Regions from separate parts of the Homo sapiens genome. Here region 2 is linked to region 1. The links come from fine-mapping of genetic effects on gene expression. A gene starts in region 1. The other region holds a variant in brackets. All regions are shown on one strand. Distances are from middle to middle.

Region 1 (5,383 bases):
TTGAAGGAGATAAACCAGGTAAGGCATCCAGCTCAACGCTGGTGCATGGAAGTGTGCAGTCAATGCTAGTTCCCCTTCCTCTTGCAAATGCTGACTAGCTTCTTAGCAATAAGGCCTCCATTTCCCTTATCAGTGTCCCTTTCATACAGAATTCTCAAAAGGGAAATACACACTTTCTGAACATTAACTACAGGGGCAAAACCCTTACAGGAGGTGCTATCATGTGAGAAGCTCTGAACATCCAAAGATGATAGCTCTTTAAAGGGGAAACCAGAAACTTCACCCTCCCCATGGATGTTTTTACCAAGTGTATTTTGGAATAATCTTTTCTCTGTTGGTCAAACAAACGGCCCTTGTAGGTGTGGTGGGTGTGGTGGAGGTTTGGGGAGTGGGGTGCTGGTGTGCCCAGAGTGGCCATGATTCATTGTTGATTGAAATTAGACTGTGGGCATCCATGTGACCTTTGTGTCATCATGGAAACTCTGATGAGAGTGACTGCCCAAAACAGAGCTCTCCAGGGCTCAGCACCCTCCCTCCTGGAATGTGTCCCAAGGTCTTTCCAGGGCAAGTCGGGCCTCAGCTCAGTGTCACCTCTCCAAGGAAGGCTTCTCTGGGCTCTGCATTTGATGTTGACTTCCTTGTTTTAATGTCTGCTTAGCACTCTCTGGTCTGGCCTATCTGTTTATCTGATTCTTTTGTGTTTCCTCCATTATCTGTAAGCCCCAGATGTCAGGGAAGTTGCCTGTGTTACTCTCCACTGAATGCCCAGCCTAGGTCATGGTGGTCATCAATTTCATTGGTCACCAATATCTGTTGCTTCAATAAATGAGTCCTCTTCACCCTGTTTGCTCTGTGATAATGAAGCCCAGTGAAGGTCTTGAGCCCCATCATGACTTGAAGGGTGGATTGTGAGAGCTCAAGAGTATGTCTGTGGAGGATGCATTAGGACTGAGTTGGGGGGTCATGACATTTGATCCCTGAAAGCAAGAAAACAGCTTCCACTCTCGGATATGGTTTCCTCTTTTCTTTGATTGCAACTGGTTGTCATGATCCCTCCAGTCCATCTTGGGTGCAGAAACCCTGGGGATTGCCAAAGGCTCCTTTCTGAACCATCTTTTCAAACATGCGGGACATTCCCTGTCCAAGTGAGCTGCAAGGACAAAATAGAAATTTGTGGATGCAAAATGAGATTACTGATGTGGTTGCTGAAACTTATAAAACTCCCTCAGTGATAGGGGTTGTGGTGGCCTGTAAAGGGGATAATGATGACACCTTCAAGCTCTCCTTTTATACCACACAGCCGGTGGAGTCAGGACTTAGGTTCGAATCCAGTCAAGCTATATACATCTGTGTGACTTGGGCAGACACTTTTCCTCTTTTAAGTATCAGTTTCCTCACCTGTAAAATAGGAGTGATAAAACCTACCAAACCTGTGAGATGTCCCCATGACAGAGCACCCAGCACAGGCCACGTAAGGGCTTTCCTGATGTAAGCTTAAGCAGGACAGGCTCGGGCTCAGGACTGAGGCCTCTGGAGCCACCCTCCTACAGGCTGGGTGGCCATGGATAATGTGCTTCACCTCTCTGAAGTCTCGGTTTTCTCACCTGTAAATTGGCCGTAATAACACCTAGGGTATATTTCCTAGGGCTATTGGGAGAACCAGTTAGAATATATTTTTCACATAAAATGTCATTCAGGTAATTATGGCTGTTTAAAGCCTTATAAACTTAGATCTTGCCCTTGTAGACAGAAATGAAACAATTGCTGTGACTGGGTCTGATATCATAGCCAAACCCCTACACAAAACAACAGACTTATCATTCAAACAAATCAGTGAAAATAATTGGTCTTGTAAGTTGTCAATACCCTGTGCAACAAAAGCATTGGTGGAATGACCTTGAGCATTAAGGGGGAGTTGTAGGGATATCTTCTAGAGAAAAGATGGAGTTGTCACCTCCCATGTGCTCTGCTACATCTTCTCTTTAACTTTTCCCTTTGCCCAAAGCAACATGGACCATCTGTTTAATCAACCTCCACCACAACTCCATTCCCCAGTAAGCCAAGTCAGCAACTACTCAAATGCCTCATTCTAAGATGTGCTGATGGAGTGTGGCCTGCCTCAGAGGGTCTCTCCCTTCAAATAGGTCTATATTGTCTGGTTTGTTTGTGAACAGAGCCAGGTAGGTGCCGTGTGGCTCAGAGAGGTGGCTGGAAGTGACCTTCCATGACTCAATTCCACAGGTTTGTTTGCAAGAACACAGACACACGAGTGGCCACTGACAATATGTGTTCCAACATTATATACGGGGTATATTTTGCTCAGAAACATGCCCTGTTAGTTGTTGAAACCTTTTTTGCATTCCCTGAAACAAACGACACTATGGTGTATTTTCTTTTGGGGGGCAGTAAATAAAAGTCTTTTATGTTGACAATGATAATATTATATTCTACAATCTATTTGCATTTCTCTATCCTGTGGATTTTATTGCTTAGTATAAATCCCCAGGCTGAGGTGCATTAAGCTTCACTCAGAGAGAAACAATGCATTTTATCATAGGGCCGGACAGCTATATGCACAAGATGCTACCTGCAGAGATTGGTTTTTGCCCAGATGTGCAGGAGAGATGCACAGAGAGGAAGAAATGCATACATGTGTGCAGGTTTTGGCGTGTGCACAAGAAGCCTGGAAGGATTTTCTTTGGATCTACAGTCAAAATGGATTTCCGAGAGGAAGCTGTCTGAAAACACACCTCTTCCCTGTGCTACATACGGTCCCATCTCTGCCAGCCAGGTTGTCAGGAAAGTGATCAGCACTGGCTTCAACTCTGGCTAGAGCTCTTTGGCCAATGTGATGGGCAGAAAACTGGAATGAGGACAGAAAAGCACCTCAGAGGTTTGAAGAGTCTAGTCTCTCACCACCTTGCTGTAGGTTTTCTGAATACTTCTGAGTTTAGGAGCATTTTTTCTCAACAGGCAAGTCAGGAGCTGCTAAGATAAACCATGGCAGTAAGCTCGAGCCAGTGTTCGTATTTGCCATTGATCGGCCACCAAGTGCTTGCTATGTGCCATGCATTGTGCTAAGCACTATCTCATTTAATATTTACAGCAATCTTATGAGGTAGATGCTACTGTTATCTCCATTTTACAGATGGGGAAACTGAGGCACAGAGTTCCACAGCTGGTAACTTGAGGAATAGGAATTCAACCACTGGAGAGTCTGGCTGGAGTTTTTTGTGGTAGGAGAAAATATGCTGTCTAAATTTGCCTTGGGAAACCATCATGGTGGTCACAAAACCACTTCTACGGCTTGCCTTGACCTAGCAGGAATGAAGATGTAAAGAAAGAATGAGCGCGTCATGGTTATGATGGGATGATGATGTCTGTTGTGTTGTTTGGTGTCAGTTTCTGTAACGCCTTTCTATTTCAATCAAGGCTATTATCTTTTCCTCTGTTTTAGTGAAGTTTCCTTGAAGTAGAAAATGGGAGTGTATTGGGCATCTCAGAGTTTTCAGCTGAACTGAAGGGTCTGATGGTAACTTTACCCCCAAATCTCTGAGAGAAAAGCAGGGAGTCCCTGCTTCAGCTCTGCTCAGAAGAGCCTCCCTCACATGGTGGTTTCTGTGTCACTAGACTGGTTAACCAAATGGTTCTTCTAAATACCCAACTTTTAATAGAAACTCCTGCGGCTTGGATTATTAAAGTCCTAACATGCTTATTTAATCGTGTTTCAAGTCCATCTATCTTTTTTGAGTCTAAGGAAGACTCACTAGGTCAGAAGGAGTAGAGGGAAGAGGATTAATACATGATTTTCTTTTTCCCCTTTTTCTTTTAACTTAGGCTGAGACTTATTTGAATGCCTGTTTCATATGGAGCTTTTAAGTGTAACAGTTGTGAGTGAAATTGCCCCTTTTCAAGGTAATTGAATTCCATTTTTCACTTTCCATTTCCCTCTAGAAAAATCAAAACGTTTTCAGAGCTTGGCTTCTTAGTGGGTGATTTTCTAAGGTGGGAACTTTAGAACCATAAAACATTCTAGTGTGGCAAAGGCATTCAGGAACCGGATGACCAGGCCCCTTCTCCGCAGGTGAACAGCCTCCACCAGCCGGTCTTGGAGAACATATTGATTTCACTGTGTTTTTATTTGAAACACCAAAGGAATGCCCATATCTTGTCCTTGGGCCAGGGCTGTGGGTTAGGGGAGCTGGGTTTCTGTCCAGAATCTTGTCATCTGTAGGGCAGCTGAGGGGCATTATTACCCAGAGGTCCCTGGAAACCTGTGCTAAATTGGTTTGGATCAGTGTCCGTGAAAATGTTGGACAAAGGAGAGTCGATTTTAGCTGACACCTGGACACGACTTTAAATAACACTGTATCACGGAGCAACACAATGTCCTCCCAACTCTTTTTCGGTCTTTCCGATTATGTTAGGGACAAAGTCTCAGTTTGGTGCTGTTGTGGTCGAACTATCTTCTCATCTCTGTTTTTTAAAGTCAGGCAGATCAAGCCTTACTCCTAGGGCTTTAGAAGGTAATAGTTTCTGATTTGGATTTAATCACATTGTTTTATTTCCTTTTTAACATTTTTATGACAACTTTTGCTTTATAGCAGTTTTAAAGGTAGGAAAAAATTTTCGTTTGAAAACAAGTTGGTTTGAGATGTTTTTCACTCTTACATAAAAGACCCACCTTCACAGCGTATGAGCTTCTAAAGTTGGGGAAGCAGTGGCTTAGGTGGGCAGGCAGGAAATTCAAGCAGGTTGGTTTCTGCCAAAGTCAGAGATGATTGCCACTTACTGGAAGGCTGTGTTGGAACAGAGTGGGCACAGGCATTGGGAGCAGAGCTGATTTCCAATCTTCCTGCTGCCCTCGCTGCCTGTGTGTGCCGTGGCCTTCTTGAGCTTTAGTTTTCTCACCTGTGGAACAGGTTTCATGAGCAGTTGGAAGGAAGCAAATGAGCTTCATTTTCTACAACAGGGTGGGTGGTGTAGTTGATATTCACCCCAAAGGTGCAGGATCCCCACTTCTGTTTATTGCCAGCGCTCCGAGTTTGCTTCTGCATGGAAGGGGAAGATGGACTAGAGCTGATACCTCCTGCACCCTGGTGAAGAAATGCACCCTGAGGCCAGAAAATAGTACAAACCCATCTGGCTGCAACAGTCCAGCAGCATGAAGATCAAAGTCACGTGTGAGTTTTGTGCACGGGCAGCCTTTCCTCTTCTCAGGCTGCAAATCTTTGGCAATCGGAGGCAGGCTCTGAATTAAGCTTAATTAAAATTCACTCTTAATTAGGGCCATTACTTAAAATCAATTCTACATAATAAAGCTGTGTAATCATAATTAAGCCCCAGAAATGGGATTAGGAAGCACAGAATGCAAAAGCCAAAC
Region 2 (5,383 bases), 39 kb before region 1:
ACCATAAAAACCCTAGAAGAAAACCTAGGCATTACCATTCAGGACATAGGCATGGGCAAGGACTTCACGTCCAAAACACCAAAAGCAATGGCAACAAAAGACAAAATTGACAAATGGGATCTAATTAAACTAAAGAGCTTCTGCACAGCAAAAGAAACTACCATCAGAGTGAACAGGCAACCTACAAAATGGGAGAAAATTTTCACAACCTACTCATCTGACAAAGGGCTAATATCCAGAATCTACAGTGAACTCAAACAAATTTACAAGAAAAAAACAAACAACCCCATCAAAAAGTGGGCGAAGGACATGAACAGACACTTCTCAAAAGAAGACATTTATGCAGCCAAAAACACATGAAAAAATGCTCATCATCACTGGCCATCAGAGAAATGCAAATCAAAACCACAATGAGATACCATCTCACACCAGTTAGAAAGGCAATCATTAAAAAGTCAGGAAACAACAGGTGCTGGAGAGGATGTGGAGAAATAGGAACACTTTTACACTGTTGGTGGGACTGTAAACTAGTTCAACCATTGTGGAAGTCAGTGTGGCGATTCCTCAGGGATCTAGAACTAGAAATACCATTTGACCCAGCCATCCCATTACTGGGTATATACCCAAAGGACTATAAATCATGCTGCTATAAAGACACATGCACACGTATGTTTACTGCGGCATTATTCACAATAGCAAAGACTTGGAACCAACCCAAATGTCCAACAGTGATAGACTGGATTAAGAAAATGTGGCACATATACACCATGGAATACTATGCAGCCATAAAAAATGATGAGTTCATGTCCTTTGTAGGGACATGGATGAAATTGGAAATCATCATTCTCAGTAAACTATCGCAAGAACAAAAAACCAAACACCGCATATTCTCACTTATAGGTGGGAATTGAACAATGAGATCACATGGACACAGGAAGGGGAATATCACACTCTGGGAACTGTGGTGGGGTGGGGGGACGGGGGAGGGATAGCATTGGGAGATACACATAATGCTAGATGACGAGTTAGTGGGTGCAGCGCACCAGCATGGCACATGTATACATATGTAACTAACCTGCACAATGTGCACATGTACCCTAAAACTTAAAGTATAATTAAAAAAAAAATAAGATTTATGTTATTACAAAATAAGCATGACATAAAAACTTACTAAAAGGGTGCTCTTTAGCCCAACTTCTCGGCTATATCACTAAACTGCAACTTGATTTATACAAATTTGATTTATATGGTTTTAACTTATTTTTATCTATGTTATACATGCATATAGTACCAAGAATCAGATAAGTCTAAGGCATGTTACAAAAAAACTGCAGTTCCAATCTCCCAGAGGCAACCATTTTAATTTTTTTTTTTTATAGCTCACTTTGTTTTTGTTGCTTTGGTCATTTCAGTGTGTCTGTTTTGAGTATTTTTATTGTGGGGAGTGGTGGGGTGGTGTTTACCTCTGTAACTTTAAATTTTTTGAGATTTGATTTTTTTTTTTTCAATTTTCAGTGTTACCTGCCTCTGACACAGAAGATTAAGATACAGCTCTTTCACACACCCTCTTCTCTCCCAATATACTTCAGGAAAAATTTTTGCTTAGCTCAATTATCTAATGTTTAAATGTTAATTATACAAATATTCTTCATAGCTGAGTCTTGTCATATGACATTTTCCTTCCTGCACGCAACCCACCAGAGGTAATAATTGGGTTTTTGCATTGCTGCATTATCAGAAATATATCCTAAATGTCCCCCAATTGAGTAAATTTGCTCTTGGGTTATTCAACACCTTAGCTATTCTATTGTTAAACGTCTCTCCTCTCCTGGAGCCTTCTGATTTGCTCCAATCTGAACTGATTGCTTACTAGCACTGCTGTACAGCTGGTATCTTGGGAACTCCCTTCACTAATATCCTAGAGACTCCTTTTATCCCTCCATTCTGTGGAGTGCCCTTTTCCCCAGATTCCTGTGTCTCTCTTTTTGATCTGTTCCCTTGTTTGGTGACATATAGGCTCAGTAACTTCCAGAGGGAATAAAATTATATGTCTGAAAATTTATCTACACTAATCCTTAATTAGGTTGACTAGCTATAGAAATCTAGGTTGGAAATCATATTTTTTTCAGATTTCCAAAGGCACTGCTGCATTGTCTTCTAGGTTCCAGTGAAGCTGGAGTCATATGAGAACTTTCATATGATTGTTTTGTTTTCAGAAGCTTTACAGATCTTTTTGTTCTCTCAGTAGACTGAAATTTCACAACATTCTGCCTTGGTATGAGCCTATTTTCATGCACTGTGGTGGACTCTTTCATTGTAGAAACAAATGCCCTTCAACTCTAGGAAGTTTTCTTTATTTCTTTAATGAATTGCCCTTCATTCCTTGTGTATGTTCTCTCTTTCTAACACTCTTATTTGTTGGATGTTGGACTTCCTTCACTTACCTAATCCTTTTCCTCCCCATCACCAACACTTTCCATCTCTTTTGTTTTGTTTACACTCTAGAGGAATTTCTTCATTTTACCTTTCAACCCTTCTATCGAGTTTTTCATGTCTATGGTCACATTTTTAATTTCCAAGAGCTCCTTCTTGTTCTCTGAATATTTTTTATAGTATGTAGTTCCTTTTTCATGGATACAGTATCTTCTCTTCTCTCTGAATATTAATAATTTCTTGAAATTTTCATCTCCCCTCATTATTTGTTTCTTCCTCATTGAATCTGTTGATTTTTTCTCTGCTTTTTAATATTAGATTTGTCCCTCAAGTATCTGTTGTGCCTTAGTTGCCCATATTTAAGACTGTGACACTAAAAAGACAATTGGAAGTTCTGCACCTGTGGTACTCAATAATGTGGGGTGTTCTGGCTGGGTTATTTTGTTGGGAGAACCTCTGCTATTAGTATCTTTAGATCTTTTATCTTAGGCTGGTCAGATTCCTGAGAGAAAAATCTACTTGGTGGGTATAAATCTGGCTGCCAGTATTTTGGTAGCCCAGTGAAGGAAAAAAAACTGGGGGTCTTGTAATTT[T/G]GTAAGTAAACTTTGTTTCAGTGTCCTTCTTTACAGTATACTACTTTCCCTCAACCTATGACTAGTGGTTCCAGGGCAAATATCCTTGTTTTAACCTCAAGTCTTTTGTCACAGTGAAGGGATAGCTGCCCAGCTATGCAGAGGGCAGAAGAGACCTCAGGGATCTACAATTCTTATATATTTAACTAGTCTTCCTATTATCCAAATTTCACCCCTACTTCCAGAAGATCCTGGTGCCACCATGAATTGAGTCGTAGGGGCTATTTTTGGCTTTACCCAGCCAGCTTAGGGTTCAGATTTTTGGGCTTTGGGGTTCAGACTTGTCTATTTGCTTCTCCATTTGCCTTTTGTTTTGTTATCTCTTCTTGGAATCTCTTTACTTGTGGATTTTTGTCTCTTTAAAAATCACTTAAATTTAAATCTCAGGTGTACCACTGACTAGTTGCTTGACCTTGAAAAAGTTAAATCTCTCTATTTACACATCTGTAAATGCCAATGGCAATAGTTCCTACCTCATAGGATTATGATGAAGAGAGTTCATTTATGCAGAGCTCTTAGAAGAGTCCTGGATTATGGTAAATTCTGTAAAGGTTGGCTGCTGACATTACTATTTAGGGGAGGAAGTGAGGGTGCACAGAGTGTTCATTTAATCCTCTACATTTACCAGAAGTCTACCTTCCTAGCGTAGCTCTACAGGTCCCTCAGAGTCTAACTGCCTGACCTACCCATACAATGTCTCAAGAAAACATCTATCACATAGTTATTACATTTTATTTTATGAAAGAATATTCTCCAAACTAGAACAATTAGATAATCAAGTTTGGGGGGAATCTAAAGCTTCTTAACTGTTTTAAATGAGTTCAAGCATCCAGAACCATTTATTCATTTAATAAAAATTTTTTAAGAATCGAATCAATCAAGGCACCGTGTTAAGTACTAGAAATACCCATAAGGAGCTTACAGTTGAGCAGGGATAAGAAAAGTAAGGAAATATGCAATTATAAAATAGTATAACAGGTGATAGCAAAAGGCAGAAAGGATAACATGCTGGCTCAAAAAAAGTTTTCCATTGTAAGAGACCTTGACTACTAGCAGTTAACCTGGTGTGTTGGAGGTAGGGTATAGCAATGGGATTTCAGACAGACAAGTATGTGTTGAAACAGATACAGAAAAGCACTTGTGGAGATATGCAAATAGTTCAGTACAGCTGGAGCATAGAACATGCAGTAAGAACAGAGTAAGAGACTAGAGGGGAAAGGAGGGGAATGATCTGAGCAGGTCATATAGTCCATTCTAAGATGTTTAGACTTTATCCTGAGGACAATGGTGAGCCAATGAGGGTTTTCTGCAGATTCGCATTTTAGAAGGAGAATCTTCACTGTGGTGTTGAAGCTGGTTTTGAGAAATGATGAATTAAAGGTAGTCAGATTTCTTAATATGTACTGTAAATTTGTGAAATATGTAGCATAAAGCACTTTCCAAACTTATTTGGCCATAAGAACATTGACTCTGTTCTACTGTACACCATCTATTAACATTGCTTGAAACAGCAGGGTTCACAGATCAAAGTCCAGGAAATGCTGTCCTAGGGAGAACACATGGAAAAAGCATATTAGGCACTCATTATTTGGTGCCTAACGAACGGCCATGCCCTCTTCTTCTTGGAGTCACAGCTTGATTTTGTTTGAGGTGTTCCTTTCCCCAGCTCCTGTAGTAAGTTCTGAGTGGTCCAAACTGGTCTTGGCAGTCCCAGTCCCCTTAGCTGTGGCTGCTGTAAGCATCAGCATGTGATGCAAATCTGGCCAATGAAAGGGAACTGTGCTGGAGGGATCTGGGAGGAGACTTATAAAAAGAGACTGTCTATATATGAGCACCTCTGAAGGTAATGATCATGAGGGGTAATAAAGAGAGTGAACATGACAGAGCAGAAAGATGGAAAGAGCCTGGTCCCTGACAAAATCTTTAAACCTCTGAATTAACTTTAGGGCTCTGCTACCTTGGATCTTCTTGTTTTTCCTTATTGTATAAGTTAAGTTGGTTTTTTTGTTACTTATAGATGTAGGCCTCATAACTGACACAGGTTATCTTTAAATACCCAAGAGTTGTTTTAAAAAGAATAACTACATATTCAGTGTAGTTTTCATGGTTAGAAATAGGACTCTTAGGTGAAAGCAATAGGGGAACAGATTTCAGCTAGCTGGTGAGAAGGAATTGTTTAAAATAGAATGGATTGACTAGTGAGACAGGAAGTTCCCCAGCATAAGAAATGTTTGGTCAGGGATAGATTATCCCTAGAAATATTCAATCACAGAAATTTTCTTGGGATAAAATAACTGAATATGTCTGTGAGGTGAGCG

The links.
Region 2: its variant is fine-mapped to the expression of LINC01187 in whole blood (TOPMed, PIP 0.90).

Annotation. Positions count from the first base shown.
Region 1 is chr5:170,196,284-170,201,666 of GRCh38, reverse strand. LINC01187 (long intergenic non-protein coding RNA 1187) reads left to right here and starts at 2,526. Exons shown (of 5, transcript NR_108022.1): 1 at 2,526-2,925; 2 at 3,838-3,915; 3 at 5,036-5,183.
Region 2 is chr5:170,235,521-170,240,903 of GRCh38, reverse strand. All of the region lies in intron 3 of C5orf58 (chromosome 5 open reading frame 58), which reads right to left. Among named protein-coding and RNA genes, the nearest start is that of C5orf58, 5.2 kb to the right of the region's middle. The variant T/G (reference allele first, on the strand shown) is at 3,027.